Homo sapiens: one gene and its partners. The protein of the gene in region 1 purifies or fractionates together with the protein of each later gene. This does not show direct contact. Each region holds a gene or a part of one and is shown in the gene's direction. Other genes may lie near its edges.

Region 1 (8,677 bases):
TGAAAATAGTGAGTTTAAGTCAGAGATTTTAAAACCATTTTGCATTCCGTTTCTTTCATACTCTGATCCTGTTGCATAGAATGCGTGGGACACAGAGATCATCTGCTTCGCATGGTTTGTTAATCACAAATCATGAAACCCTGGCCCGAGTCATCTGAAAATCTCTGAATTGAGATTTCATTGTCAGTAAGACAGTGAGCGGGCCCTCTGCTTCATCCTAGTTTTTCCGTGTGGAGAGCTGAATACGTAGTGTAAGATCTTGTGAAATTGTGAATTCTCCCTCTTCTTGGTTTGTTTGTTTGTTTGCGACAGAGTCTCAGTGTGTCACCCAGGCTGGAGTGCAGTGATGCAATTTCAGCTCACTGCAACTTCTGGCTCCCAGGCTAAAGCCGTCCTCCCACCTCAGCCTCCCGAGTGGCTGGAACTACATGCACAAGCCACCGTGCCTGACTACATTTTTTTGTTTTCATTTTTGTAGAGATGAGGTCTCACTGTGTTGCCCAGGCAGGGTTTCTCTGGCTTTTAATGAACAATTGCTTCTTTTTTTTTCTTTTATTTATTTATTTATTTATTTATTTATTTATTTATCATTATACTTTAAGTTTTAGGGTACATGTGCACGTTGTGCAGGTTAGTTACATATGTATACATGTGCCATGCTGGTGCGCTGCACCCACTATCTTATCATCTAGCATTAGGTACATCTCCCAGTGCTATCCCTCCCCCCTCCCCCCACCCGACAACAGTCCCCAGGGTGTGATATTCCCCTTCCTCTGTCCATGTGATCTCATTGTTCAGTTCCCACCTATGAGTGAGAATATGCGGTGTTTGGTTTTTTGTTCTTGCAATAGTTTACTGAGAATGATGATTTCCAGTTTCATCCATGTCCCTACAAAGGACATGAACTCATCATTTTTTAGGGCTGCATAGTATTCCATGGTGTATATGTGCCACATTTTCTTAATCCAGTCTATCGTTGTTGGACATTTGGGTTGGTTCCAAGTCTTTGCTATCGTGAATAATGCCGCAATAAACATACGTGTGCATGTGTCTTTATAGCAGCATGATTTATAGTCCTTTGGGTATATACCCAGTAATGGGATGGCTGGGTCAAATGGTACAATTGCTTCTTAAATCTTTCCCCACGGAAACCTTGAGTGACTGAAATAAATATCAAATGGCGAGAGACCGTTTAGTTCGTATCATCTGTGGCATGTAGGTCAGTGATGCTCAGCATGGGTGTGAGTAAGATGCCTGTGCTATGCATGCTCCCTGCCCCACTGTCAGTCTTCATGAGCCACTATTTCTAATAAGACTGTAGACACACATACGATATAATCATCTCTAATCATATCAAATGTTACATGTAAGTTTCACCTTTAGAGACATGAATTGATAAGATTTGAAGTTGAAAGACCATGACTCTAGTACTTCCTGAGTAATCAACTGAAGTATGCTTTACACATGTGTTTTCCAAATTGCTGACTGTTAATTGTAAGTGCTTGTGACTTGAAAGGAAGCACTTGATGTTCAGGGAGGAAATTCCTTTTAAATTCTGCAGGTCTACGCTCAAAGTTTATGCAGAGGTTCAATTGCGTGTAAGACACGGGATCACCCATAGGGTTCTGTTTTTAGTCCATTTAATAAAACCCAAACTGTAGTGTGCTTTGTATGCCTTTAGGGTCATCTGAATAATCTGTTGCTAAGTCATGTTCCCAATCGTTGTGTTTCTGTTACAGGTGAAAAGCAATCACAGTGTTAAAAGAAGACACGTTGAAATGATGCAGGCTGCTCCTATGTTGGAAATTTGTTCATTAAAATTCTCCCAATAAAGCTTTACAGCCTTCTGCAAAGAAGTCTTGCGCATCTTTTGTGAAGTTTATTTCTAGCTTTTTGATGCTGTGAAATATGTATCATTCTTTGAAATCGTGTATTGTAACTCTCTGAGCTGGTATGTAGAGACATCGTTCTTTTTTTTTTCTTTCTTTCTTTGTCCTCTTTTGAGACGGAGTCTTGCTCTGTCGCCCAGGCTGGAGTGCAGTGGCGCGATCTCTGCTCACTGCAACCCCGCCTCCCGGATTCAAGCAATTGTCTGCCTCAGCCTCCCGAGTAGCTGGGATTATAGGCACCCACCAGCACGCCTGGCTAAGTTTTGTGTTTTTACTAGAGATGGGCTTTCGCCATCTTGGCCGGGGTGCTCTTGAACTCCTGACCTCGTGATTCACCTGCCTTGGCCTCCCAAAGTGCTGGGATTACAGGCATGAGCCTCCGCGCCCGGTGGAGACATAATTCTTACATATTGGTTTTCTATCCAGCGGCCTTGTGAAATATGCTTGTGAATTCTAAAGTTTACTTCTAGGTCGTTTTCAGTCTTCAATATACAGAAACATATCATCCTGGAATAAGAGCAGTTTTGTTTCCGCCATATTTTTTTCTTTTCCCTTTTGTATTTTTTTGTAGAGACGGGGTTTTGCCATGTTTCCCGGGCTGTTGTTGAACTTTTGAGTGCAAGTGATGCACCCACCTCACCTCCCACAGTGCTGGGATTACTGGCGTGGGCCACCGTGGCGGGCCCGTCGTTGCCATTGTAAAGAGTTTTATTTCCTTTTCTGATTTTATGGCATTGCGCAGACCCACCCGTTACAATGGTGACAGTGGACATCCTTGTCTTATCCCTGATGAGAAACCGAAAAATTTCAACATTTCACCATCCTATTCACTCTCCTTTTTTTGTAGACGGACTTTATCAGAGTGAGTCATTGCATTCTGTTCCAAATTTGCTGAGAGTATTCATTTGAATATATGTTGATTTTCATCAAACAGTGCATCTATTTCGATTACCACAGCGTTTTTTCCCATTCATGTGTTAATATAGTGAATTCGATTGATAAATTTGTACGTTTTTAGGTTCGATTATTAAAACTTGAGACAGCGTCTCACTCTGTCACCGAGGCTGGAGTGCGGTGGTGTTATCAGAGCTCGCTGCAGCCTTGACCTCCTGGGCTCAAGCGCGCCTCCCACCTCAGCCTCCTGAGGAGCTGTGAGTATAGGTACATGCCACCATGCCCAGCTAATTTTTCGATGGTTTTTTGTTTGTTTTTTGTAGTGATGAGATTTTCTGATGTTGCTTAGGCTGGTCTCGAAGTCCTGAGCTCAGGTGATCTGGCCAGCTCAGCCTCCCAAAATACTAGGATTACAGGCGTGAGCCTTGGCCTGGTCTGGTTTTTCTTATATAGGGGTCTTATCTATATAAAGACTAAAGTTAATCTGTGCCTTTGTGCGGGTGGGCTAAGAGCATGATGACTTTTATCATTCTATTGATTTAAAGAAAACTGTCCTTGACTTACCAGTGTGTAAGTCCATGAAAGCATAATTCTGTTGAAAGCATATATTGTTAATGGGTGTTGGGAACCGTGCACTTTCCGCTGCTGTGGGAGCATGTCCTTGGAGGTACCTTTCATCTGTTTTCTCAACTCCAAACATCTTAGGACCATGGGTTGTGACTGGTAGGACTATGTATCTTGCTGCTTTCAAGACGGAGTATATTTTCACGTGGTGTCACTCTGGCTGTCCTGTTTCCCTAATACTGTCACTTCACCCTCTGCGATTCTGATGCTACAAATGATAGATATCGTTTTAGCATTTTCTTACGGGTCCTAGCGATTCTATTCATTTTTCTTTCAGTCTCTTTCTCTGACTTGTTCACATTGAACAATTTCCTTTTGGGATAGGTTGCTATTTCTGTTTTCGCAGGTGGTTTACCTGTCTTCCCAGCCAGTCACAGTGGTCCTTGTCCCCATGGTGGGTCCGGGGCAAGAGAGGGCCCTGGGTTGGGGGTGGGGTTCAGTTGAAGATGGGGTGAGTTTTGAGGGGAGCACTACTTGAGTCCCAGAGGCATAGGAAACAGCAGAGGGAGGTGGGATTCCCTTATCCTCAATGAGGATGGGCATGGAGGGTTTGGGGCGTGGCGCTGGGAACGGCAGCCCTCCCCAGCCCACAGCCGCGCATGCTCCCTGGGCTCCCGCCTCAGTGCGCATGTTCACTGGGCGTCTTCTGCCCGGCCCCTTCGCCCACGTGAAGAACGCCAGGGAGCTGTGAGGCAGTGCTGTGTGGTTCCTGCCGTCCGGACTCTTTTTCCTCTACTGAGATTCATCTGGTAGGTGTGCAGGCCAGTCATCCCGGGGGCTGAAGTGTGAGTGAGGGTGGAGAGGGCCTCGGGTGGGTCAGGCGGGTCCCGCTTCCTGGTCTGTGGCCTCCGAGGGAGAAGGGCCACGAGGTCGTCCTCCTTCCCTTCACAGGCTGCGAGGCCACCGGCGGCTTCGTGGTCGTGAAGGGGCCTGGACGGGGAGGAAGGTGGGCCGTGGAGGGGAGGCGGTCAGGGGCTCAGGTGAAGACGGGGTGAGTGCTGTTGGGGGGATGGAAGTCCCGAGGTGCCGGGATCCCCGACGACACAGGGCAGATTCCCTGAATGGGGCCCCCGGCGGGGGCGAGGCGGGCGGTGAAGAAGGGGCCTGGCACCTGGGAAGGCTGCGGCCTGGCGAGCGCCCCCTCAGCGGTGTGGAGTGCGGAGCGCCCGAGTGAGAAGCACTGCAAGGTCTCACCTCCGCCATGGAAGGTCCGAAAACAGTGGGAAGGAGTGGGCGAGGCAGTGCGGTCCAACCAAACTTGTTGTGAGGGGGGGTGAATGGCTCTAGGAAGTGGGAGTGTGCCCAAAGCAGCAATCACGAGAATTGTGATTCACTAGGGTTTTCGTGGGGAGTGCACTTGTGAAACTAAACCTCATCAGAAATGACCTCTGTCTGCGGGGCGCAGTGGCGCTCGCCTACGTATTCCCAGTTACTGGGGACACTGAGGTGGGAGGATCCCTTGAGCGGGAGGTCGAGGCTGCAGTGAGCTGTGATCACGCCGCTGCACTCCAGCCTGAGCAACACAGCGAGACCGCGTGTCCAAAAGAAATTTAGAAAAAAATGTCCTCTGCCTTTTGCCACACGCCTTAAGATGATTGCTCTGCCAGCCTGGCCAGCAGAAGTGGCTTTGTAGGCACTCAGACAGCGTACACACGTATGCTTAACTCTGGGACTTATTTTGAGAGTATTTTCAAAAGTAAAACGGCAAGTTAACATTTATCCATGGAAGTGATCGAATATAGCAGCCCTCTGGAGCGCACGTTCCCAATCACGGTTGTCTGTTTTCAGTGTGAAATATGAGTTGGCGAGGAAGATCGACCTATTATTGGCCTAGACCAAGGCGCTATGTACAGCCTCCTGAAATGATTGGGCCTATGCGGGTGAGTGCTTAAACGTTAATTCGATGTTTTCTATTAGTAGAAATTAATTTTTGTGATAGCGTCGTTGCATTAGTGTGGAAATGCTGATAAAGGTCTTTCCTGCTCATAAAAAATGAGGATGGCATCTCATGAAGGAAACATTGATTCTGGAGGATTTTTTTTTTCCTCTCGTGTTCTTCAGCTTTTGCCCATGACTTCTTTCTCCGGCTTTGTTTGTTAATGACAGATTGTACACATGTATTCCAACACAGAGTATAATAGCCCCCAAAGTCCTCGTGCGTCACTTTTCTCACAGTAACCTCCCTGTGGGTGGAGTAACCTTATTGGGCATAGAGCATAGAGTTGGAGAAATGTCTTTAGGCTTAGTTAGGACCAGAAATAGCTATGTATTCTGTGTATATATGTAAAATTTTGTATCAATAACGAAACTTATTTTTTATTTGCACACCCACACGTATTCCCCAGCCCGAGCAGTTCAGTGATGAAGTGGAACCAGCAACACCTGAAGAAGGGGAACCAGCAACTCAACGTCAGGATCCTGCAGCTGCTCAGGAGGGAGAGGATGAGGGAGCATCTGCAGGTCAAGGTGAGGGAAAGGGAAGAAGAACGTCTGCTGGTGTGTGCGTGTGTGTGTGTTCGTGTGTGTGTGTGTGCACGTGTGTGTGTGTGTGTTAGGCATTGTCACATAGGAGGAAGAGGAGGAAAGAAAACAATGGAAAGAATGCCTGAAATTGACTGGAAAAGCGAGGAGGCTATGTAGTTCGCAGCTTAGCTTAGGCAAATCCCTCACTATGGTAAAAGATCTCGACTTTATGAATGAGAGAATGGAGGTGCCAGGATTGTGTGTTATCCAAGAACCCTTGACTGGTGAATACAACATTTGTACTGTGTTCCAAGGTTTGTGTCTTCCTATCATGTATGTTGCTGTAAAGAAGGAAGTGATTTTGCTGAAAATGCTTAAAACTCAAAAGGCTTTACTGTAAGGTAGCTTAGTACTGACCCAAGAATAGACCCAGTTCAGAGGAGCAGGAGCAGCTCCAAAAACCGAGTCGCTGAATGTTGGCCCCCGTTTCCTTTGATTGATATTTTTATATGGTACGTTTGATAAAAGCTGGATAAATGAGGATACTGCCATACAGGTAGCTGGTTTAGTGATTTTTCTCAGCGGCCTTTAGGAGGTGATTAAATCCTTTTATGGTTAGAAAAGCAAAAACGGAATTATCCTGAGATTAACGTGAGATGGAAATAATTTCTCCGAGATAAAATGTTTTGAAAGGAAGCATTTATGTAACGGAGGTCATGGATTATTCCAGGGATGCACTGTTAAAAGTTCCTAGAATCTGACTGACAACAATGCCCATTAATTGCTGTCCGCCCACTCCCTTATTCTCAGTGCGGGGGACAGTATATTTTCTGTGATTCACAAACAATGTTATATTTGGTGCTTTGTTCTTCACGGGGTTCATTTATGGAATATTACCTTTAGGACCTTCGGACCTAAATATAACTTTATTTGAACAAAGTGAAGTTTCTCTTTACCCCAATAGGTAATGGGTGTCGTGACTGTAAGATTTTCCATAGTCCTCAAATCCATCCAGCTAATCAATCCTTCAGAAACTGACATTGTAATTGTAACTGAAATCCTACCCACGTGGTAGACTTCAGATTTCTCAGCTGACGCACACTGCTGTTGGTACTCTAGGGCTGAATATAAGCATTATACATGTCCTGTGGTTTATCCTTAGATTGTCATTTAGGAGAAAGGTCTAAAGCTGGGCTGAATGCCATGCACTCATAGTCCCAGCTACTTGGGAGGCCGAGGTGAGAGGATTGCTTGAGTCCTGGAGTTCAAGCCCAGCCTGGGAAACACAGTGAGACCTCATCGCTAATAAATAAATAAATGGATAAATAAATACATAAATAAATTCATTAAATAAATAAAGTTTTCATGGTATAGGAAAACACAGATGCAAAGTTTTTGTGCCTAGTGGCTGGTAATGTTGCAAACGTAACTCCTTAGTGAACTGTACCACTTAAAAATAGTTAAGATGGTAAATTTTAGGATATCTGTATTTTGTACCACAATTGGAAATTCCTTTCTTCCTAAAGTTCAGTGCAGTTATCATATATTCTTTTAAATTTTTCCTGTATGTATCTTCAAGTCATAGCATTCATAGAAAATTTGCAAGAATAGTACAATGAACTCATATACTGTTCATCTGGATTCACCAATTGTTAGTAGCTTTCGCTTCATAGGTTTCACATCTCTTCCCTCCGTCTCTTACCGTGCTGCCCACACACTCACACACACACACACACACACATACGGATATATGTTTACTGTTATTAATGCTGAATTGTTTCGATAAAGTTTCAGGTATTATGGTCCTTTACCCTATGTACTTGAGGGTGTGTTTATCGTCAGAACAAAGAGAAAGTCATTTCTTGGATCATCACTGCACAAAGATCAAAATCAGGAAATTTAACAATGAGAAAATGGAGTCATTTAATACAGAGTGCATACTCAAATTTTGCCAGTTCCCCAGAAAATTTCTTTTTTCCTTTTTTTTTTCTTTGTTGAGACGGAGTCTCTCTCTGTGGGCCAGGTGGGAGTGCAGTAGTGCGATCTCGGCTCACTGCAACCCACACCTCCCAGGTTCTAGGGATTCTCATGCCTCAGCCTCCCGTGTAGCTGGGACTACAGGCGCCGGCCACTGCGGTCTTGAACTTCTGGCCTCACCTGCTCTGCCCACCTTGGCATCCCAAAATGTTTGGATTGCAGGCGTGAGACCCCACGCCCGGCCCAGATAATTTTATTGATAGGATTTCTTTTTCTGATCCAGAGTCCAGTTCAGAATCACACCTTGCATGTGCTTTTCAGGTGTTTTTAGTTTCCTTTAACCTGTAATGTTTCCTTAATTTTTCTTGTCATTCACGATACGGACATTTTTGGAGAGGATAGACCAGTTGGTTTGCAGAATATTCTGCAGTTTGGGCTTTTTCATGTATTTTTAAAAGAGTTTTCTCACTCAGCGTTTATTGGTGGCTACTCATGCCATGTAAGAGTCTAAGCGCTAGGAGTGTAAGTGCTGTGAGAGACGGGATTTGAGCCTTGAGTCATTTAATACGAGAAGGACAATCAGAAGTAGAATAAGAGAGAAGTGCAAAGGAGGCAGCAAAGTTGTCTGAGGGCAGTCTTCGGAAAGGAAGAGGGTAATATTTGGAACACCTTGTTTTCCTGTTTTCTGCTAACGGACTCCTGAAATAATGTTCCTGGGATTCTTATCAACACATTTATTATTACGTTAGCTAAAGCTTTTATATAATAATACCGAGAGCATGAATATCATTTTCTTATTCATATTTTATGTTTTACTGCTTAAATTGATA
Region 2 (7,910 bases), on another chromosome or scaffold:
ATAAATCAGAATTCAAGTAAAGAGAAGATTAATAATGGACAAGAAGTCAAAATCGATCAGAGAAATGTTAAAAAAGAGTTCACTAGCCATGCTTTAGATTCTCATATCTTAGATTATTATGAAAATCCAGCCATCAAAGAGGATGTATCAACATTAATAGGTGATGATTTGGCATCTTGCAAAGATGAGACTGATGAAAGCTCAAAAGAAGAAACTGAGCCTCAAGTGCTGAAGTTTAGAGTCACATGCAACAGGGCAGGAGAGAAACATTGCTTTACCTCAAATGAGGCTGCAAGAGATTTTGGGGGTGCTGTTCAAGATTATTTTAAGTGGAAGGCCGACATGACCAACTTTGATGTGGAGGTAGGTATAGGCTCTGACTGTGGTGATTGAAGAATGCTGTCACAGATTTGTAGAATTTCCAGACTAACCCAATGTTATGCACAATTAAACTGAGGAAATAGTAGGGTGTGGTTAAGAAGAGCATAGGCTATGGAGACAGATTTAGATCCAAATTTTAACTCCACAACTGTATAACTTTGGACTAGATAGTCTCTGAGCCTCTGTTTCAAATGGAGCCAATAATATTATGTACCTTTAAGGTTATCCTGAAGGATAAATGAGGTACATTTAAAATATTTGGTGCAATACCTTGCATACACTAAGTGCTCCATAGATGGAAGCCATCAAGGTTGAGTTGTCTGTTTTCTTTTTCTTTTTCGAGACAGAGTCTTGCTCTGTCACCCAGGCTAGAGTGCAGTGGTACGATCTCAGCTCACTGCAGCCTCCACCTTCCTGGTTCAAGTGATTCTTGTGCTCAGCCTCCCAAGTAGCTGGGGCTACAGGCACATGCCACCACACCTGGCTAATTTTTGTATTTTTTAATAGACATGGGGTTTCACCCTGTTGGCCAGGCTGGTCTCAAACTCCTGTAGTGATCTGCCTGTCTTGGCCTCCCAAAGTGCTGGGATTATAGCTGCACCTGGCCTGATTTCTAATAGACTACTCTTTTACTATATTATATGGACTTTCATATTATAAAATTCAACCAGAATTAAAATAGTTATTTTGTTTTTGTGTGTCTTGGTTGCAGAGCTTTGCTACTGAAAAAATAAAATAAGGCTGGGCGCAGTGGCTCACGCCTGTAATCCCAGCACTTTGGGAGGGAGGCCGAGGCAGGTGGATCACTTGAGGTCAGGAATTTGAGACCAGCGTGGCCAATATGGTGAAACCCTGTCTCTACTAAAAATACAAAAATTGGCCCGTCATGATGGCACACTCCTGTGGTCCCAGCTACTGGGGAGGCTGAGGCAGGAGAATCACTTGAACCAGGGAGGTGGAGGTTGCAGTGAGCCAAGATCATGCCACTGCACTTCAGCGTGGGTGACAGAGCAAGACTCCATCTCCAAAAAAAAAAAAAGTGCATTTTTTAAACAAACCCTGACCTTCTCAAACCAGGACATCATTGCTAATACTCATCCTAGAGTCAGCTCTCCTCTTTCTTAAATTCTGCTAGATTTCCAAAGCCAGGTACCTCATTTTAGTATATTTACTTTCCTTGGTCTTAATCCTCTTTTATCTGGGTGATTGACATGTGAACCATAGGAACTAAAGTATTTAAGTCTCTGACACCTTAAAACATCTCTAGCAGCTGATATATTTACCAAAGAGTCAATTTCCGTTGCTTTTGGGACACTTGAATCTGGGGCAAGTCACTGATTCTAACTTTTTTGTGCATGTCAAATCAGGAGTCTAATTCCCCATTCCTTTTTTTCCTCATACACTGCCTTGCAAATGAATACGTGGCTCACACCTGTAATTCCAGTACTTTGGGAGGCCTTGGCAGGCAGATCGCTTGAGCCCAAGAATTTGAGACCAGCCTGGGCAAAATAGTGAGACCCTGTCTCCACTAAAAATAAAATAAATATTTTAAAAAATAAAATGAATAGGTTAACCAGAACAGTGATGTCTAAAAGTTAGCAAGGTGATTCAGAGGAGTTTCTGGAGCCGTGCTGCATTGGTTTAAATCCCAGAGGAGGCTGGGTGTGGTGACACACACCTGTAATCCCAGCACTTTGGGAGGTCAAGATTGGAGGATTGTTTCAGGCCAGGAGTTCTAGACCAGCCTAGGCGACATAGGGAGACCCTGTCTCTACAAAAAATAAAAAAAAAATTAGCTGAGTATGATGACAGACACCTATAGTCCCAGGTACTTGGGAGGCTGAAGTAAGAGATTGCTTGAGCCCAGGAAGTCCAGGCCACAGTGATCTGTGATCATGCCACTGCACTCAATCCTGGGCGACAGAGTGAGACCCTGTCTCAAAAAGGGAATTCCTGAGGAGCTGTCTTTGTGCCTCAGTATCCTCATTTATAAAGGGAATAATACCTAGCTTAGGGGATGTGAATATGAGATGAGGCCATGTATGTAAAATGTGTAGAATAGTGCTTTGCATTAGGAAGTGCTGTATGAGTATCAGCTGTGCTTCTGCTGTGGTTAAGCTCAGGAAGTCTTTCAGTGAAAGATTGGGGAACATTTTGGTTTAGTTTAGTTCACTTTTGAGACAGGGTCTCGCTGTATCACCCAGACTGGAGTGCAGTGGTGCAATCATGGCTCACTAAAGCCTTGACCTCCCAGGCTCAGGCTGTCCTCCCACCTCAGCCTCCCGAGTAGCTGGGACTGTGGGCCTGTGCCACTGCACTCAGTGTAATAAGACTTTTTATTTGAGACTTTACCAATTTTTAAAACTTTTTTGTTGAGATACACTTTGCACCCCTTAAGTACACAAATCTTAAGTTTTCAGTAAGTTTTTACTTATATACACGATGTGTAAACAGCATCCAGATAGAGATACAAACTATTTCCAGTACCTCGGGCTCCCCTTGCCCTTTCCCAGTCAGTACCCACTCAAGGCAATCACTAATCTGACTGCTACCACCAAAAATTCGTTTTGCCAATTTTTGAACTTCATATAAATGAAATCATATAGTATATAGTTTTTTTCGTTCATTTTAATATCTATTATTTTCTTTTAATTCACTATGTTTATTGGCTACAACCAGATTTCACCCCAATTTTTATAACACAAACATATTTTGAAGGCTTAGAGGTTTTTTAATATGTATTTTTTAAATGTCTTAACTTTTTAGACAGTTCTGGGCTGTGGTGCGCTATGCCAATCAGGTGTCTGCACTAAGTTTGGCATCAATATGGTGACCTCCCAGGAGTAGGGGACCAACAGGTTGCCTAAGGAGGGGTGAACCGGCCCAGGTCAGAAAAGTCTTATTACTAAGCGCAGTTTGAACAATCCTAAAACTATTTTGTCTTGTTCCACTTTGCTATAGGTTCTTTTGAACATCCATGATAATGAAGTCATTGTGGGCATTGCATTGACTGAAGAGAGTCTCCACCGAAGAAATATAACACATTTTGGACCTACAACTCTTAGATCAACTCTTGCCTATGGGATGCTCAGGTAAGAAAATGAGTTTGCCATCCAGCTTAAAGTGGCACCTTGGTTTGAATGTTCCCTTCAAAATACTGATTTGTGTGTATGTGTGTTTGAGGTACTGTGTTGGAATAGAGTGGATAAAGAATAGAATGGAAAGCTAATGATCTATTTCTTTCCCTTCTATCCAATATTGACTCCTTGTGATCTGAAAATACTGCTTAATAGGTGGCTCAGTTTTCTTTATTTCTTTTTTTGAGACAAAGTCTCACTCTGTCGCCCAGACTGGACTGCAGTGGCGAGATCTCAGCTCACTGTAACCTCTGCCTCCCGGGTTCAAGCGATTCTCCTGTCTCAGCCGAATAGCTGGGATTACAGGTGCCTGCCACCACGCCCAGATAATTTTTGTATTTTTTTAATAGAGACGACATTTCACTATGTTGGCGAGGCTGGTCTCAAATACCTGACCTCAGGTGATCCACCCGCCTCGGCCTCCCAAAGTGCTGGGATTACAGGTGTAAGCCACCGCGCCCGGTTTTCTTGATTTTAAAATGAGAGTAATAGTTTTCACCTGCCTCTTGAATGAGGTTACCACATTTCTGTTTAGCAAGGATATGTGTGTTGGGAGATAAGAGTAAATTTTGCTGTTTCATTTCTGTGCAGTGAAAAAGATGAAAGCAGAGATTTTTATGTGTATAACGTGTAAATGAACAGAAAGAGCTTTTACTTATATTTTTAAGCTTTATACTCACAGCAACTCAGGAATCATCCTAGAATTTTTTGCTTTTCAGAGTACACGACCTATCTTTCCTTCTCCTTTGCCCTTCTCTCTTTTATTGGGTGCTTCTTTCCACCACTTGAAAATGTTTATTTTCTCTAAAGCTTCTGTTTTCCAGATGGCAAAATGGATTTGATGTGAGACTTAAAGGATTATTAGTGAGGATTAAATGCTGAAGCATATGCAAAATACCTATTATATACAGTGCCTGGTATGTCCTGGTAGTTAAGTCCAGTCATGCATCACTTAATGACAGGGATACATTCTGAAAAATGTGTCATCACGCAATTTCATCATTGTGCGAACCTCATGGAGTGTACCTACACAAATCTAGATGGTGTAGCCTACTACACACCTGGGCTATGTGGTATCTCCTATTGCTCCTAGGCTACAAACCTGTACAGCATGTTATTGTACTGAATATTGTAGTCAGTTGTAACGCAGTGGTATTTGTGTATCTAAACATAGAAAGGATAGGGCAAAATATGGTATTATAATTACTGCATTCATATATTTGGTCCACCATTGATTGGAAGATTGTCATGCAGTACACGACTGTATTCCTTCTCTTCCAATCTTTTATCTTCCTAACATATTAATTCAATGACGATAATAGAAAATTGGGCCCATTTGATAAAGGAAAATCTTCTAGTCTTCATTAATTTAACAAATATGCATTATCTACTGCCAGGCATATGGTAGAAACCAGGGATACAGAGAGGGTGTTATTTTGGGTGCAAATATTTAAAACCTAAGTAATCAAGTTTAGGATAAAAAAGTGATAATTGTGCCAGAGAGGGGTTTATTGGAAAGATAAAGAGAAATCTTGGGGATTCTACAGAAAAACTGAATGTTGGTTCTCAAGAAGGGTAGGAACCACATCTTGGAAAACCACCAGAAATGTAGGCAGCCATTTTTATCTCCCCTTAGAGCCTGTGGACTCTTGTCTCTTCTCATCTACATGCTTTCTCATCTAAATTTATGTATTTCCAATTCCAAACGACCAACCCACACTGCCTAGGGCTTTTAGCTCTTTGTTCCAAATTCCTGGAAGAGAGGATCTGATGGACATTGTTTTGGTCAGATATTCACCCCTGACCATCAGGAATGGCTTGGAGTACAGGGTGCTTACCCCCTCAAGAGGGTTGCCAAGGATTCTATTGCCATGTGTTGAGGAGTAGGAGCAAGGAGATAGAGCAGGACCAATGTTACAATAAGAACCCACTATTAACCCCCAAGAATCTGTCTTGTGAGGGAGATAAATAGTTATCATACATGCGATAAGTCCCACACCAGCACATGAAAAGATTAGAAGAACAAGAGAAGGGAAGAAACCTACTGACCTGTTTCAGGGTGGGATGCTTCATAAAGAGGATAACAGTTAAGCCACTAACAGTAATGCCTCTAATCTTGAATCTGTTACCTACTAGTTTTGTGTCCCTGGGCAGGTAACTTCATGTTTCCTTGCATCAGCTTACCTTTAAAATGAGAATAATGATAATTATCTAACAGGGTCCTTACTGAGGATTCTGTGAGATAATGCATGGAAAGAGCTTAAGTCCATGCCCAGGAAATACTAAGTGCTCAAAGTAAAGCATTTTTTTTTCCTTTTTTTATTACCTAGTCCCACAGAGCAATTTTTTTATATCAAGATTAGCTTTAAATTCAGAAGGAAAGGAATACTGAATGTCTCATTGCCAGTAACCTTATATTGATGCATGTTTGACTTGAGACATTTTTGAGTCTTTTTAATGTAATACAGGTTTCTGTTGAAAACAACACTGTTGTCAAAAAGTATGCATGAGCGTGTGTGTGTGTGTGTGTGTACACATGTGTACTTTAAGATGTCTGCAAACTAAATTTCATCTGAGAGTGAAATGGGATTTTGGAAGATAGTCAAAGGAGATTTAGTTATAAGGATTTTTTTTCCCCAAGTAATGGAATATACAGTCAACATATCATTATAAATTGATTTTATTTATTTATTTATTTATTTTTGAGACGGAGTCTTGCTCTGTCACCCAGGCTGCATCTTACATGATCTTGGCTCACTGCAATCCCCGCCTTCTGGGTTCAAGCAATTCTCGAGTCTCAGCCTTTGTACTAGCTGGGATTACAGGCACCCACCACCACGCCCAGCTAATTTTTTGTATTTTTAGTGGAGACGGGGTTTCGCCATGTTGGCCAGGCTGGTCTTGAATTCCTGACCTCAAGCGATCCACCCATCTCAGCCTCCCAAAGTGCTGGGATTACAGGCGTGAGTCACCGTGCGCGGCCACAAATTGATTTCTAAAATATGTGTAGATTGGTGTTCCTTCGGGCTAGTGTGGTAGGTCCTCAATCTTAAAGCTTCAGGAATCATCAGTATAGAAGCCTCAGCTTTTGAGTGAGTCTTCACATAGGCTGTTTTCTTTTCTCTAGGCTCTGTGATCCTCTACCTTATGATATAATAGTCGATCCAATGTGTGGAACTGGGGCAATACCAATAGAGGTAATCATATTTCTTTAGCTTTTAGATAAGAGTGATACATCCAGAATATTCTAGACCTAATGGGCAAATTAGACATAATGAAATCTCCATGGTTGGATCAGTGGACCCAAGAGTTTTAAAACAATTAACAATAGAAAGTGGAACTTTTTTGTAAAGAATGTAACTACTTATTTCAAAGAGCCATGTGCCACTGGCCTAGATACATTGTTAGTGACATCTATTCACTAGATTACAGAGGAAGCTGAGAATTACAAACTGCCGATGAGTCCTCTTTGTGTAACAGACAAGCTGGTAGACTTGAATGGGAAAAGATAATTGAAGGCATAAGCATAAACTGGAGGAAGGCAATTTTCTTCTCTGTAATCCACTTAAGTTCCTAGAGGGAATAAGTATAGTTGTAAAAAGGGGAAACTTATGAACATTACTTGGATTTTTTAGGAAGTCTAACAAGCTTAATACCAAATGCTCTTAGTTTTCAAAATTACCATGATATTGAGAGGACTCATAAAAACTGTGTAAAGCAAAGCAAGAAATGGAAAGGCATTTTCTAAATGGAGAATATTTCACAGTAGATTCCCCTTGAATAATCAGTATCATCTATATGTTTTTAAAGAATTTAGAAGAGGGAGCTCCCAGTAAAATCACTGAAGTTTGTGTGAAACATAGTAGTTCTTCCATATAGTATACTGACAGCCAATTTGAATAAACTGCAGGGAGACACAGCAGATTATATGATTGGGTAGAAACTGGACAGATGAGCAAGTCCAAAGCAAGCCCACAAGGGGAGAAATAATCCAAACTGTAATTAGAAAATGGTATCTGTTCTGGGAGTTAAAATCCAAGACTGAAATCATAGAAGTCTACATGTGACTGTGTTCCGTGAAAGCTAGAGAAATTACTGTGGCTTAAAGAGACTGCACAGTAAAAACCCAGTCCTTCTTGTGGCCAAGAAGGATTCTGGGAAGAAAGCAGAGTGTTGTTTTCTAGTATGAAATCATGATATGTGTATGAAATAGCAGGTAAGGTCACCGCATGTCAAGAAATACACAACAGAGCTCCGAGTAAAAATAAAGGCCGAAAAAAATTAAAACATGAAGTTTGAGCCATTTCCATGTAAGAGTAGACATGCAGATGTCAATGTAGAAAAACCTAAGCCGATATATGATCAAAATGAATAAAATTATGAATAAATTGA
Region 3 (7,122 bases), on another chromosome or scaffold:
GGAAAGGGCAAGAAGTCCACAGGAATCGCCATGTTTGGGTGGACCCACTTTCTAATGGCTGGCATTTGGATATCGGGTAACTGGCCTGGCTTTAAGAGCTGGAGCTTTACAAGAAACTTTTCCAGACGTGCTTTAAAAAACAAAAACTTCCTAAGGACCCCTTTTCCTCTCTATCTGCCTAAAATAATTTATCAATAACTCCTACAACATTCCCCCCTGTGGAGATGCCGCACTAACTGCTGTTAGAGGTTTGGGCGACGATGTCTTCTGGCTACTTCCTGCTGGAAAGGGGCGTCGAATGGGGAACAGCAGCTAGGGCTCCTCCTGGGGTTGATCTAAGGGTCCTCGGAAGACTGACGTGTCCATGTGTGGTTCAGTTTATAGCACCATTTGGAGTTTGATTGCTGTGAGTTGGGTGATCCTCTCCTCTTGAGGTCCCAAGATAAACTCAGAGCTTCCAGACAGATAATTTCCAAATTCTAGAGGAACCAGGCAGAGAAATAAACATGCTTCAAATTTTGTTCATAGGAGTACACCTTACTCAATTATTAAAGGCCATAAATAGTTTAAAATAAGTTTCCTTGACTCAGTCTGATGAATGAATTTCCTTTCTCGGCCAACGCACCAAAATGATGTGGCTCCGATGAGTGGTGGAGCACCAGGGTTTTTGGTCCTCATGCCAGCTTAGATACAAGGACACGGACACACGTGGAGTGGTTTTAAGGAGCAGAGAGTTCAATAAGCAAGAAGGAAAAGAGAAGGAAGAAGCTACCCTGTACAGAGGAGGAGGGCGCCAAAGCTGAGAGAGGCAACCCCTCAAATATTAAAAAGGAAGAAATGGCGTGATAGGCTAGCACATTTTATGGAAAGCCATGTCTTAATTAAATGTTTTCCCTACAAATGTTCTCTGTATCAAGAAACCTGGCACATAGGGAATGCATGAAACCTGATTTATAATCAGATTCAGTCTACTTAAGTAATAACCTATATCTAGATGATAGATTGTCAACTGTGCTACTTTAGCCATCATCACATACCCAGCGTTTCTATCCTTAGTGACACAGCTGGGCCAGAGGCAAGGCCTGCATTCATGCATGCAGATTATTTTACTGTAAAAAAGAACACTGTGTTTTGAACTTTAATTGCACAAATAGACACAGCAATGACATTCTCTTCTAGTAACTAGTAACAGCCCATTATTCCTCACATAGTACCTAAGATAGAGCTGTTAGAATTTAGATAGACATTAGATAGCCAGTGAAAATATTTTAGTCTACAGTTGAAACTGTAACAATATTGGTATTGTTCTCAACTACCCCTGGTCTAGTTAAGGGCTTTCAAGTATGTGTTTGGACCAAGTATTTTCATGTCCACCATCTAGATAGTCCTTGGTCTATTTCCCACCCCATGTGCTTTCTGGTGGGATGATCACATCTGCACCTCTAGTCCCCAAGCTGTCCCTGAGCTCTGTGTCCTCACTGTCTCCACATGGAGTGTCCCCTTCCACCTCAAACTTGACAAGGGTTGTGTCTCCACACCACCCTGCTCCTCCTGGATTCCAGCCCAGTCTGTCCTTCCTTTTCTGTTGGTTGCCCTGGTTCAGAGCCCTGGGACCTCTCATGTTCCTCTCCCAGAGTCTCTTCCAGCCTTACTCTACCCGCCAGACCACTTCTTGGTCAGCATACATTGTGCATTTCCCCAGGTTTGTGCCTTTCCTATATTGTCTCCTCCACCTAAAAGGCCCAATCTGTTAAGTTTCTGCTCAATCCCATCTCCTCCACAAACCTGCTGAATCTCTTCATTGGAATTCATCTTTCTCTTCTGTTCTCCACACTGACTGCACTTTGTATGCTATTAGCATCTACAGTTTACTTTTTCTCAAGATTTTATGTTAAAATTTTTCAAATATTCAGAAAAATTGAATGAACAGTACAACACTCATATACTTGCCATTTAGTAAACATTTTCCTATATTTACATCTCTTCATCTCCGTATCTGGCCTTATGTTTTTATGCATTTCAAGGTAGCAGACATCAGTACATTTTACACCTAGATTCGTTTACATGCATAGCATTAGAGTTCAATAGTTGCTTACTGTATTTAGGTAAACTTTTCATACAGTGAAACGCAAAATCTCAAATGTACCTTTCAATGAATTTTGATGCATGTACACACCTTTATAACTCAAATCACTATCCAGATGTAGAACATGACCATCACACCAGAGGCCCTCCTGCCCCTTCTCAGTTGATTCTAATATCCACTCCCGAAAGCAACCACAGTTCTGATTTTTTTCACCATAGATTGGTTTGACTAACTTTTTGAACTTCATATAAATGGAATCAAACAGTATGTACTGCTTCACATAAGGCTTCTCTCACTCAGCATAATGTTTTTGAGATCCGTTTGTGTTGTTGCATGTATGAATAGTTTGTTCCTTTTTGTTGCTGAGTAATATTCCATCATATGAATATATTGTAGTGTGTGTATTCATGTCCTATTGATAGAAACTTGGGTTGTTTCAAGCTTGGGGTTGTACAAGTTGTTTCTTTGTTGACATATGCTTTCATTTCTCTTGGATAAATACCTGGGAGTGAAATTGCTGGGTCCTAGTGTAGGTCTATGTTTAGTTTCGTAAGACACTGGTTAAGACCTTTTTTCAAAGTGATTGTATCATTTTATCCTTTCACCACAAATGTATGACAATTCAGGTTGCACACAGCCTTGTCAACATTTGGTGTAGCACAGTGGCTCACGCCTGTAATCCCAGCACTTTGAGAGGCCAAGGCAGGAGGATCGCTTGAGCCCAGAAGTTCAAGACCAGCCTGGGCAACATGACAAGACCCCATCTCTACAAGAAGTTTAAAAACTAGCTGGGCATGGTGGCACACACCTGTGGTTCCAGCTACTCTCAAGCTGAGACGGGAGGATCACTTCAGCCTGGGAAGTCGAGGCTGCAGTGAGCCATGTTCACACCACTGCACATGCTGTGTTGTCCAGGCCTGGACAACAGAGCAAGACCTTGTCTTTAAAAAAAAAAAAAAAAAAAAAAAAAATTAGCTATTCTGGTGGATGTGTAATAGTATCTCATTGTGGGTTTGGTTTTCATTTCCCTAGTGACTAATGATGTTGAATGTCTTCTCAGTGCCTATTAGTTGTGTTACTTATTCAGATATCTTCTGTGAAAAACCTGACCTTGTGAAGGTAAAATCTTTTGTCAATTTGTAATTTAAAAAAACATATTTTTACAATGGGTCAAAGGAGTTCTTTATATTTTCTGGATACCAGTCTTACGTGAGATATGTTTTGTGAGTATTTTTTCCAACTATCATTTGTCTACTCATTGGCTTAATGGTTTCTTTTCAAGAGACATTTTAAATTTTGATGAAATCTAACATTTTTTCCTTTTATGCATTGCTTTCTGTGTCCTAAGAAACTATACCTACTTCAGGGTCACAAAGATACTTCATGCGGTTTTTTTAAGATAATAATTTTAGTGTTTACACTTAGGTCTGTGACCATCTCAAATTAGTTTTTATGTATGGTATGCAGTAGGAGTCAAGGCTAGTTTTCTGCCGTATGGATATGCAGTTCTGCCCAGCCGACTACTCTCACTCTTCATGTTGTGACTGAGCCTGCCCACCTGTATGCCCATGACCTGGCCTGATCCTTTACACACAACAGATGCTTCCTTCATGTTCACTGAATTGCAATACAGGTTCAGAGAACAATAGAGGATTCCTGCAATCTTTTAATGCCTTGATTTTGAAAATGGTTTTACAGAATTCATCTCCCAAAGTAAATATCAGTATATAGAGCCTGTTCAACCCTTCAGTTAGCATTTCCTGCCAAGAATGTAGGTTAAAGCAATAAGGTTAATTGCATCAATCTTTGTTTTTGGCTTCTTTAGAGTGAAGAAAGGACATGAATTCAGCTTTTTATTGAATTCTTAATATATGCTAGGCATGGTGCTTCATTGCTTCTACTACATCTTCTTGTTTGATCCTTATAGCAACCTTGTAGGAAATTTGGATGCCAGAGATTTTAAGTGACTTCTGCGTTACACAGTTACTAAGTTGCAAAGCTAGGAGTTCTCTGGGACAGGGAAATCTGGAGGAGAGCCAATAACTTGATTCTGATATAAGATTTCTATAAAAGAATTAACATCTAATTGATTGTAAAGTGTATAGAACTTGATAACAAAACTTGATATGTAATTAAACTTGTTAAATTGTGAATCATCCCAGTCAAAGATAACTAAAAAAAAATCAGTCTTCTAATATCAGTCTCTAAGGGTATAGTCATATATGCAAAAATAATAGCCCTTAGGAAATATATTTAGGCCTAAATCTCTAAGCTAAGGATGGATTTGATAGTAAAAATACATTAAAATTATAAATAGCTCCAAGGCCCACACACTGCCCATGACTTTATAAAATGTTCTTGCATTCAGGTTATACAGCCAGAGTCTTAATTCAGAAAGCCAGAGTGTTCCTCTAGTGTGTGGATTTGATTTTGTGTCTTTGTGCTTCCTGTTGCCTCCTGGTGAACGCAGTTCTGACCTTTCCTTTGTTTGCAGGTATGCTTCAGAAGTGTCCTTCTGTTGATGACTTCGTAAGTGCCCTCGTTTCCGACTTGGATCTGGACTTCGAAACTTTCCTCATGGATTCTGAATAAAAGAAACACTCTACACCTCTTAAATCAAGGTCATGTAGATAATGACTTTGTTATAAATGCTACAGCTGTGAGAGCTTGTTTCTGATTTCATTGTTCGCTTCTGTAATTCTGAAAAACTTTAAACTGGTAGAACTTGGAATAAATAATTTGTTTTAATTATTCTGGCTTTTCACCTGTTTGGCAAATATTTGAGCACATGGAAATCTCTGACCTAGTAACAACAACACTTCTACATGGCATTGTTAAATGGAGGGTATGGGCATTTCCTTAGTATAACCACTCTCCTGTTGAGCTTTTCCCTCTTTCCATGGATCTTTAATTGGTTTAATTAAATAATTAACTAAAAGCAAAATTGTTTAAGACAGAGTTTGAAGCAGTCTTCAGACAGGTTACACTTATAGTTCTTTTAAGAATGATGACCATTTCTTAAGACCACTATCTAAAGTAGGCTTAGAAAATGCACTTTAAATAGTCAATTACAGGCAACCAACAAACCAAGTGTGGTTTCCAAAATACATGTAATTATCTGTACTGTTTTTTCCTGAATGTTTAGGCAAATAGACTCAGAACACAGAGGACTGGCTTGGCAATGAAGGTAGAATGAGTAAGTGCAGGTACAATTAATAAGTGACATACCAGTGTCAAGCAACTGGTGAATCAGGAAACAGACCATGTCTGTTTTTATCTGGAACTCATTTGCTTTACAGTATTGCATACCATACTGTATTTTGGTTAATATCAGGAAATAAATTATTTAATGGGTTTTTCCCACCATTAAAGTCAAAACCAAATTATGAATTTCCAGTTTAAAAAGGCATCTGCTAACAGCCTCTTCTTGCTTCTCACCAAAGACCAATGATGAAAGGAAAGATTCAAAATACCCAAAACTAGGACACACATTCAACCTATTTGCAGAATCTGGAGGAATTTCTTCATGCTCAGAGATGGGACTGGATGGAGAAACATCATCAGTGGCCGGCCTGTGCCAGGTGCTCCTGGATGCAAGGGGGATCGACCCTTCATGCTTTCCCACCTCCTCCTCACCCTTAGAAATCCAAATCGGTACTGACCAGAAAGCAGAGCAGCCAGCACCCCAAGTAGGGCTTTGCGTTTGACTGAGTGCTGCAGTGGGTCCCTGTCCCTGCTGCTCCCCATTGGAGCTTCTCTCTCTATACAGCAGCACTTGGAAACTGCAGCTCACACAGCCTTGGGCAGGGAGTCGGGCAAGCCTGGCAGTGGTGTCTCCTCTGTACCCAAAGCAGAGCTGAGGAACGGAGACAAAGGTTTGAGGAAGGGCTCTGGTGCAGTGCCCAGGGAGGAATCTTGCTGTTTCTATGTCTCACCCTATTTACAATATCCAAGCTAACTTAAAAAGAGATCTTATCCTGACAAACTGGCAATACACAGATGCCAGCTCATTCTGGGAAACAGACTTGGAGACATTTACAGGTAAATCAGTTACAGGTAAATCTGAAAAGTGCTTTCATCAGCACCCAGGTGCACCGACAGTGACAAAACCCCTGCATCTTTATCAGGTCTTTTTTGTAGAGGTGAGTAACCAAAAAAAGAAGTCTATGTGGAGCCTTTTTAAAAGCATTCTTCAGAAAAGGGAAAGGAAGACTTGACCTGGAAGATGCTGGAAAATCATAACTTAGAAAATTATTATTTCTTTTGAGACAGAGTCTCGCTCTGTCACTCAGGCTGGAGTGCAGTGGCATGATCTCAGCTCACTGTAACCTCCGCCTCCCAGGTTCAAAGGATTCTCATACCTCAGCCTCACTAGTAGCTGGGATTACAGATGTGCACCACCACACTGAGCACATTTTTGTATTTTTAATAGAGATAGTGTTTCACCATGTTGGCCAGGCTGATCTCAAACTCCTGACCTCAAATGATCCACCCACCTTGGCTTCCCAAAGTGCTGGGATTACAGGTGTGAGCCACTGTGCCTGGCCAAAAATTATTTTTTTAAAGGAGCAAATTGCTCCTTGTACATTGCAGCAAAATCTCTCTGTTTTGTTTGTTTGTTTATTTGTTTGTTTTTGAGGCAGAGTCTTGCTCTGTTGACCAGGCTGGAGTGCAGCAACATGATCTCGGTTCACTGCAACCTCTGCCTCCCGGGTTCAAGCGATTCTCCTCCCTCAGCCTCCCAGGTTCAAGCGATTCTCCTCCCTCAGCCTCCCGAGTACCTGGGATTACAGGCGCCCGCCACCATGCCTGGGTAATTTTTGTATTTTTAGTGAAACGGGATTTCACCATGTTGGCCAGGCTGGTCTCAAACTCCTGACCTCAAGTGATCCACCCGTCTCAGCCTCCCAAAGTGCTGGGATTACAGATGTGAGCCACCGTGCCTGGCCCTCTCTGGAATTCACAAAGAGATTTGAGAAAACATGTTATTTATGAAGTTGAAAGCCATAAAGAACAGGCAGAAATTAAAAGACAAT
Region 4 (7,910 bases), on another chromosome or scaffold:
GCACAACAGTCCTCACTAGTTTAACTGGGAATGACTCTGAAGAGGGAATATGACTTTACTTCTTCTTCTCTGAATTGTAGTACTCTAACATAGCTCATTTTTCATGCCATCTTCCCTAGCTTTCCAGATTTCTTTTAGAAGTGAGTTTTCACATTTGGTGTTTTATTTTGAGTTACTACTGAATTTATTTGTAGCACACTAATCTGTCATCTTTGAGTTTCACAGCCAGAGTACAGGGTCTTTGGCTGTTAAAAGCATTTTCAAATACCCATTTTTCCCTCTACCTGTCATACTGATTCACAATTGCTGGCAGCTAACCGAGGCCCATTTATTTGCAGTATCTTCATGCTCCCTCCTAAGGAACTTGCCACATGAATATCTTCGAAGATTGAACTCAATCTGTACATGTGTGCAGGAACAAGACACTTAAGACCTTCGCTATCCCTGCTGATGAAGCAGTAAATAATTAACGACTAAAGAGGGGACAGCCATACTTCAGCTGAAAAGCAGAAACAGCATGCCATGTTATTTCCCCAAGGTTACATTACTCCCAAATAATATGGGCTGTTTGGTATCATCTTGAGGATTCTGCTGCTTGAGAGCACTAGATGATAATGTCCTTACATTGCTTTTAAGTAATTAGCTCTATTACCTCTCTTGTTTTTGTTACAAGTCACCTTCTTGAAATTTCTTGTAAAACCATAAACAGCACCCTGTCTGAGTAAGGCATGTGGAAGATCCATGCCTCCTCTGGAGCCACTGGGAGCCATGAGGGCTGCAAGAGAGGCATGGCACATTGAAAGATATTAAGCCTCCAAGTCTTCCCAGTTATTAGAGAGTAAAGTTTGAGGTCAAAGGAACTAAAGCCATCATGCTTGTTTGAGAAGAAAAACAAACGGTTTTCAAAATCTCCTGAAAAAATCTTGTTACAATTTTTTTTCTCTTTAAACTGTAGGGAGGGAAAATTCTGCAAGGTTAAAAAGAAGAAATGAATACAGTCAGTACTGAAGAAATAACAGTCTGCAGTCTCAGCAGAGACTAGGGTCCACCACTCAAGCTAAAAATTAGAAATGTTAACAACAGGTGCTGGAGAGGATGTGGAGAAATAGGAACACTTTTACACTGTTGGTGGGACTGTAAACTAGTTCAACCATTGTGGAAGACAGTGTGGCGATTCCTCACAGATCTAGAACTAGAAATACCATTTGACCCAGCCATCCCATTACTGGGTATATACCTAAAGGATTATAAATCATGCTGCTATAAAGACACATGCACACGTATGTTTATTGCGGCACTATTCACAATAGCAAAGACTTGGAACCAACCCAAGTGTCCAACAATGATAGACTGGATTAAGAAAATGTGGCACATATACACCATGGAATACTATGCAGCCATAAAAAATGATGAGTTCATGTCCTTTGCAGGGACATGGATGAAGCTGGAAACCATCATTCTCAGCAAACTATCGCAAGGACCAAAAACCAAACACCGCATGTTCTCACTCATAGGTGGGAATTGAACAATGAGAACACATGGACACAGGAAGGGGAACATCACACACTGGGGACTGTTGTGGGGTGGGGGGAGGGGGAAGGGAAAGCATTAGGAGATATACCTAATACTAAATGACAAGTTAATGGGTGCAGCACACCAACATGGCACATGTATACATATGTAACAAACCTGCGCGTTGTACACACGTACCCTAGAACTTAAAGTATAATAATAATAAAATTTTAAAAAAAAGATAAAAAAAATTAGAAATGTTTGTGGATTAGAACTAAGGAGGAAGAATATAAAGGCCCATATAACCCTATTTTTGGCCATCTTTACTGAAATAAAATTGGAAAAGAAGTTTTTTTTCTACTCTTTTGACAGAAGAACTATAAAATGTATTCAAACACACTCTATGACATGAAATAATAAAACTAGAACTAAGTACATTTTCCCTCTTCTAATCCACACGTGAACACAATTAATTTGGAATCAAGTTAGTTAAAATTCAGCCAATTCAGAGCATGAGATTGGATGATAGCTGTGAGCCCTGGATGTTAAACGCAGCTCTACCAAGGATTTACTGTGTTTTGACTTGGGAGGTGGCTGAGGTTCATTTAAGTGCGCCATGTACCTGTTAATTTGGGGATAATAATGCACTCTTACAAGTCTATGGGCTTTTTCTTACTCTCTTCTCTCTTTCTTTAAGGTCCAGTTGAAAAGTGAAGAATCCAAAACGTTTGCAATGAAGATTCTCAAGAAACGTCACATTGTGGACACAAGACAGCAGGAGCACATCCGCTCAGAGAAGCAGATCATGCAGGGGGCTCATTCCGATTTCATAGTGAGGTAAAGGCTCCATGCCAGGGACAGACGTACCCAACTCCAAGTGACAAATCCACCACAAAACCCTCTGCCACTTGTGCTCACTGTTAACACATTTCGTATGCACAAAGAAACTTCTTTTTAATCTAATCTTAAGAAAGTTTTGTTTGATTTCTAAAAATAAAGTTCTGACTCTATTCTTTCTTTTAAAGAGAATTAGTGTCTGAAAACAATGTGTTTTCCCAAAGGAGGTACCAGAGTTTCTAACATTCCATTTTTATCTTTTTTTAAATCCCCAAACTCTACATAGACCTTTGATGCTTAAAAGACAAAATATCCAAAATCAAACTATTTAACCTTTAATTATCTGAATATTTTTTGAAGATCTAAAAAAATGAAATGACAGCTGACCATTCCACCTCAGTACTAATAAATGGATAATGGGGAGATTTTTATATGTGGAAGCAGCTTTTTGTAGTGAATTTTCCAGTGGCATTTACTGAAAACAAGATGTAACATGAATTTGAGCGAATAGCATATGAAATTTATACATGTCTGAATCTGTAAAGTTTAATCCACTTTATTCCCATTTTCACTGCATGTTGATGACCACTAAATGTTGCCCCAAGGGTCTATGCTCAAAACATTACCCAAATTGGAATGGAAAGAATCCCAAGAAACCCTCTTTGTCCATAATCATTATGATTAATCCATTTCAAGGGAGAGATTAGCGCCTTAGTTTCTTCTATTAAAATCCTATTCATGAGCCATTGGCTTCTTTTCCCCATGTGTGGGCTTAGATCTCTCTCATTCTGACAAAATTTTGAGCTTGGCAAATCAAAACTATAATCTGGGCCCCCCAAAATTGCACACTTGTAAAAGACAGTAATGTTTATAATCTTTGTTTTCTTGTTTGCAATTTACAGACTGTACAGAACATTTAAGGACAGCAAATATTTGTATATGTTGATGGAAGCTTGTCTAGGTGGAGAGCTCTGGACCATTCTCAGGGATAGGTAGGAGATTTAAGAAATTTCTATGATATCTCTAAAAACAGTTGCCCATGTTGGTCTATAAGAAGAGTTAATATGATAAAGTATAATAATCATATTTATAATTTACACATGCTTATATTTCAATATTTAAAGTAAGCACAGGGCATAACCCACTATACACATATGATTTACTGTACATATAACAAAACTCACTTTGTAACTAACAATACAGGCTTAGTCGATCATAAAAATGGTACATAGCAAAATATATACATGGCCTTAGTTTTGCATGAATGTTAGAATTAGCTCTGTAGCTGGAATTCAATTCATTGCTTTAGCAGAAAGAGAATTATAGTTATTTTATAATTATAATTTGAATTAACTATCAGTTTAATTGCTCTACTCTTTTTCCAGATAGGCAGTTTGCCTTTTGTGACATTGTGAATTTTTTCCAAAGTAATTTTTCCCTCTACCTTTACATGGCTCTTTGGTTTCAAAATTAACAAAAGTTTCCAGCCATCTCTTTATCCCTTGGCTAGTCTTAGGAAAAAGAAAAGAATCCACTTATAAGCAATATTTCATGTAAATTATCTGATTTAGATTTACCTTCTTACCCTTCCAGGGCAAGGAAAGTTTGTCTACATGGTGCTTGTTTGTTCTAATCATGCAAATTCATTGTCTTAATTTTCCATCTCATATTTAGATAACTAGCAAATTATCTAATTATCTTCTAATATAATTTATCCTATAAAATGTCTCAGGAGATCATTATCTACCCTGTGTTTTTTTAAAAACACACTTTTATTTTCCTATGAATAATCTTTTGATTATTTTCCATGAATGATTTATTGATCATACAAAAGTCATCTTTGTTCTTTTGAACACTCACATTTAGACATCTGTATTTTTCTTATTTGTTTGAGTCCTGCCTCCCAGACTCTCCTTCACAGGGTAGCATCCTTCTGAAACTTAGCTATAGGTAGCCCTGATGTATATAACCATGTAATGTTTTTATATTTGTTACTTTGCAGATACCCCAGAATAAAACAAGTGGTTCCTTATGAACTGTTGATTTAAATTCTCATTCCTAATGGTGTTCTTATGGTACCTTCATATCTTTGTACAACAGGCCCTTTCGTGTTATTCCCATGGCCTTTCTTATATATGCCAAATGGATTTCTTGTTACCACATTGTATCCTATTGCATCGGTATTTTATTTCAATTCTTAAATTTAAGGTTAAAAAAGCATAAAAGGGAATGTAATCATGTTGGCATTAGGCGATAAGGTTAACATCTATACTAAGCTATTATATCATAGTGTATATATTATGTATTATTGCTAGTTAATATGTACATAGAGATTATATACCAGGCATTGTGATAGAGGCTGGGGATCCAGTAATAAACAAAACAGATGGGGTCTCTCTCCTCAGAATGTATAGTTTGTGGCACAAAGTTAATATTTTAATCTGTGAGTTAACATTTGGCATATCTAATGTGTTTCTACTGTATTATATTTGACTTGATATTTCAATTCACTGATTTATTTGAAGTCTTCTACTTTTTTTTCTAATTAGAATAGAAGAAGATTTACAGGTGGAATTAAACATGAAAGCAATAATAAGCCACAAAGGGAGAGCCCAGCTATCCCTCTTATAGCTTATTATTTTTTTATTTTTTCATAAGTTATTGGGGTACAGGTCATATTTGGTTACGAGTAAGTTCTTTAGTGGTGATTTGTGAGATTTTGGTGTACCCATCACGCAAGCAGTATGTACTGCACCATATTTGTAGTCTTCTATCCCTCACCCCCCTCCGACTCTTCCCCCCAAATCCCCAAAGCCCATTGCATCATTCGTATGCCTTTGTATCCTCATAGCTTAGCTCCCACATATCAGTGAGAACATGTGATGTTTGGTTTTCCATTCTTGAATTACTTCATTTAGAATAATAGTCTCCAATTTCATCCAGTTCCCTGCAAATGCTGTTAATTCATTCCTTTTTATGGCTGTGTAGTATTCCATCATATATATACATATATATATATACATGCCATCATATATATATATATATACACACACACACATGCCATCATATATATATATGCCCTCATATATATATCACAGTTTCTTTATCCATTCATTGATTGATGGGCATTTGATTTGGTTCCATGATTTTGCAATTGTGAATTGTGCTTCTATAAACATGAGTATGCAAGTATCTTTTTTGAATAATGACTTCTTTTCATCTGGGTCAAATGGTAATTCTACTTTTAGTTCTTTAAGGAATCTCCACACTGTTTTCCATAGCAGCTGTACTAGTTTACATTCCCTCCAGTAGTGTAGAAGTGTTCCCTGTTCACTCCATCCACACCAGGATCTATTGGTTTTTTGATTTTTTGATTATGGCCATTCTTGCAGGAGGGAGGTGGTATCACCTTTTGGTTTTGATTTGCATTCCCCTGACCATTAGTGAAGTTGAGCATTTTTTCATACGTTTATTGGCCATTTGTATATCTTCTTTTGAGAATTGTCTATTCATGTTTTAGCCCACTTTTCATTGGATTATTTGTTTTTTTCTTACTGATTTGTTCGAGTTTGCTGGAGATTCTGGATATTAGTCCTTTGTCAGATGTATAGACTGTGAAGACTTTCTCCCACTCTGTGGGTTGTCTGTTTACTCTGTTGACTGTTCCTTTCGCCATGCAAAAGCTCATCAGTTAAACTAGGTCCCAGCTATTTATCTTTGTTTTCATTGCATTTGCTTTTGGGTTCTTGGTCATGAAATCTTTGCCTAAGCCAATGTCTAGAAGGGTTTTTCCAATGCTATCTTCTAGAATTTTAGTAGTTTCAGATCTTAGGTTTAAGTCCTTAATCCATCTTGTGTTGATTTTTGTACAAGGTGAGAGATGAGGATCCAGTTTCATTTTCCTACCTGTGGCTAGCCAATTATTCCAGCAGCATTTGTTGAAAGAGTGTCCTTTCCCCATTTTATGTTTTTGTTTGCTTTGTCAAAGATCAGTTGGCTGTAAGTATTTGGGTTCATTTCTGGGTTCTCTATTCTGTTCCATTGGTCTATGTTCCTATTTTTGTACCAGTGCTATGCTGTTTTGGTGACTATGGTCTTATAGTATGGTTTGAAATCAGTTAGTGTGATGTCTCCAGATTTGTTCTTTTTGCTTAATCTTGCTTTGGCTATGTGGGCTCTTTTATGATCCCATATGAATTTTAGAATTTTTTTTCTAATTCTGTGAAGAATGATGGTGGTATTTTGATAGGGATTGCATTGAATTTGGATTGCTTTGACAGTATAGTCATTTTCACAATATTGATTCTACCCACACATGAGCATGGGATGTTTGTGTCATTTGTGTCATCTATGACTTCTTTCAGCAGTGTTTTGTAGTTTTTCTGGTAGAGGTCTTTCAACTTCTTGGTTAGGTATTTTCCGAAGTTTTTGGTTTTTTGTTTGTTTGTTTGCAGCTATTGTAAAAGGGGTTGAGTTCTTGATTTGATTCTCCACTTGGTCACCATTGGTGTATAGAAGAGCTACTGATTCTTGTACATTAATCTTGTATCCAGAAACTTTGCTGAATTCTGTTATCAGTTCTAGGAGCTTCCTGGAAGAGTCCTTAGGGTTTGCCAGGAAAACGGTTATATCGTCAGCAAACAGTGACAGTTTGACTTCCCCTTTACCGATTTGGATGCCCTTTATTTCTTTCTCTTCTCTGATTGCTCTGGCTAGGACTTCCAGTACTGCGTTGAAGAGGAGTGGTGAGAGTGGGCATCCTTATTTTGTTCCAGTTCTCAGAGGGAATGCTTTCAACTTTTCTCCATTCAGTATTATGTTGGCTGTGCCTCCCTCAATTTACAATTGGCAATAAATCTGCACAGATTGCAACATACTTCAGGTTCATACACTCACTGATTGTTGTTACTCGTCAATGAAAAAGGTGAAATATTTTGATGAGAGATGCTTAGCTCCTGTTACATTCTGATATCCAAGAACTCAGTTTATGACAAGTTGACTAAACATTGTGATTAAATTTTAATTTGAGTCTATCAATATTCATAAATAACCTTCTATTTCTCTCAAATTGTCATCTAACTGCCATCTAGCTTAAAACAACCACCCATCCCCAAAGAGGGCATAAGGGCCTTATCTCTCACTGGTTTTAATTGAAATGACACAGCTGTCAAGGCATAATTCATTATTTCAAAGAGCTATATAAGGCAAGTGATTTATTTCTTTAAGTAACTATCTAAACTATTGATGAAACAGGGTTTCTTTTGTTTTAAATCAAATTTACATTGTCATTTCCAATTCTAATAGTAATTTTTCATTGTGAGTCACCTCAGTGTTATGCTTTGTGACTGCTTTCAAGATGTCTATTTTAAAATCCACAAGTTATCTACATCACATGTTTAGTGATGGGACAGTGTGGTGCTGGTAAACATTTGTGTGCATGCATTGTATAGATTTATCAAAGTTTGAGACAAGGTTTTCATTTAATTTTCAAAATCGGTTACAAATATATTTATATGTGAAAGATACTCAATATAGATGTGTTGAAGGAATGGAAACTAGAT

Evidence for each region.
Region 2: the proteins of GAGE1 (region 1) and THUMPD3 purify together in Homo sapiens (affinity purification with mass spectrometry; one large-scale study listed by BioGRID and IntAct). This does not show direct contact.
Region 3: the proteins of GAGE1 (region 1) and MIPEP purify together in Homo sapiens (affinity purification with mass spectrometry; one large-scale study listed by BioGRID and IntAct). This does not show direct contact.
Region 4: the proteins of GAGE1 (region 1) and PRKG1 purify together in Homo sapiens (affinity purification with mass spectrometry; one large-scale study listed by BioGRID and IntAct). This does not show direct contact.

The regions. Positions count from the first base shown.
Region 1 is NC_000023.11:49,594,972-49,603,648, forward strand, and holds the start of GAGE1 (G antigen 1), read left to right. Parts: upstream 1-4,048; 5' UTR 4,049-4,156; intron 4,157-5,195; 5' UTR 5,196-5,203; coding exon 5,204-5,287; intron 5,288-5,752; coding exon 5,753-5,873; intron 5,874-8,677. Other genes in the region: GAGE2A (G antigen 2A/2B), read left to right, coding at 1,740-1,762. UniProt on the Homo sapiens protein: Antigen, recognized on melanoma by autologous cytolytic T-lymphocytes.
Region 2 is NC_000003.12:9,371,174-9,379,083, forward strand, and holds part of THUMPD3 (tRNA (guanine(6)-N(2))-methyltransferase THUMP3), read left to right. Parts: coding exon 1-363; intron 364-3,342; coding exon 3,343-3,473; intron 3,474-6,645; coding exon 6,646-6,715; intron 6,716-7,910. UniProt on the Homo sapiens protein: Catalytic subunit of the THUMPD3-TRM112 methyltransferase complex, that specifically mediates the S-adenosyl-L-methionine-dependent N(2)-methylation of guanosine nucleotide at position 6 (m2G6) in tRNAs.
Region 3 is NC_000013.11:23,727,904-23,735,025, reverse strand, and holds the end of MIPEP (mitochondrial intermediate peptidase), read left to right. Parts: exon of another isoform or gene 1-479; intron 480-4,580; coding exon 4,581-4,678; 3' UTR 4,679-4,837; downstream 4,838-7,122. UniProt on the Homo sapiens protein: Cleaves proteins, imported into the mitochondrion, to their mature size.
Region 4 is NC_000010.11:52,269,141-52,277,050, forward strand, and holds part of PRKG1 (cGMP-dependent protein kinase 1), read left to right. Parts: intron 1-2,209; coding exon 2,210-2,349; intron 2,350-3,251; coding exon 3,252-3,341; intron 3,342-7,910. UniProt on the Homo sapiens protein: Serine/threonine protein kinase that acts as a key mediator of the nitric oxide (NO)/cGMP signaling pathway. GMP binding activates PRKG1, which phosphorylates serines and threonines on many cellular proteins.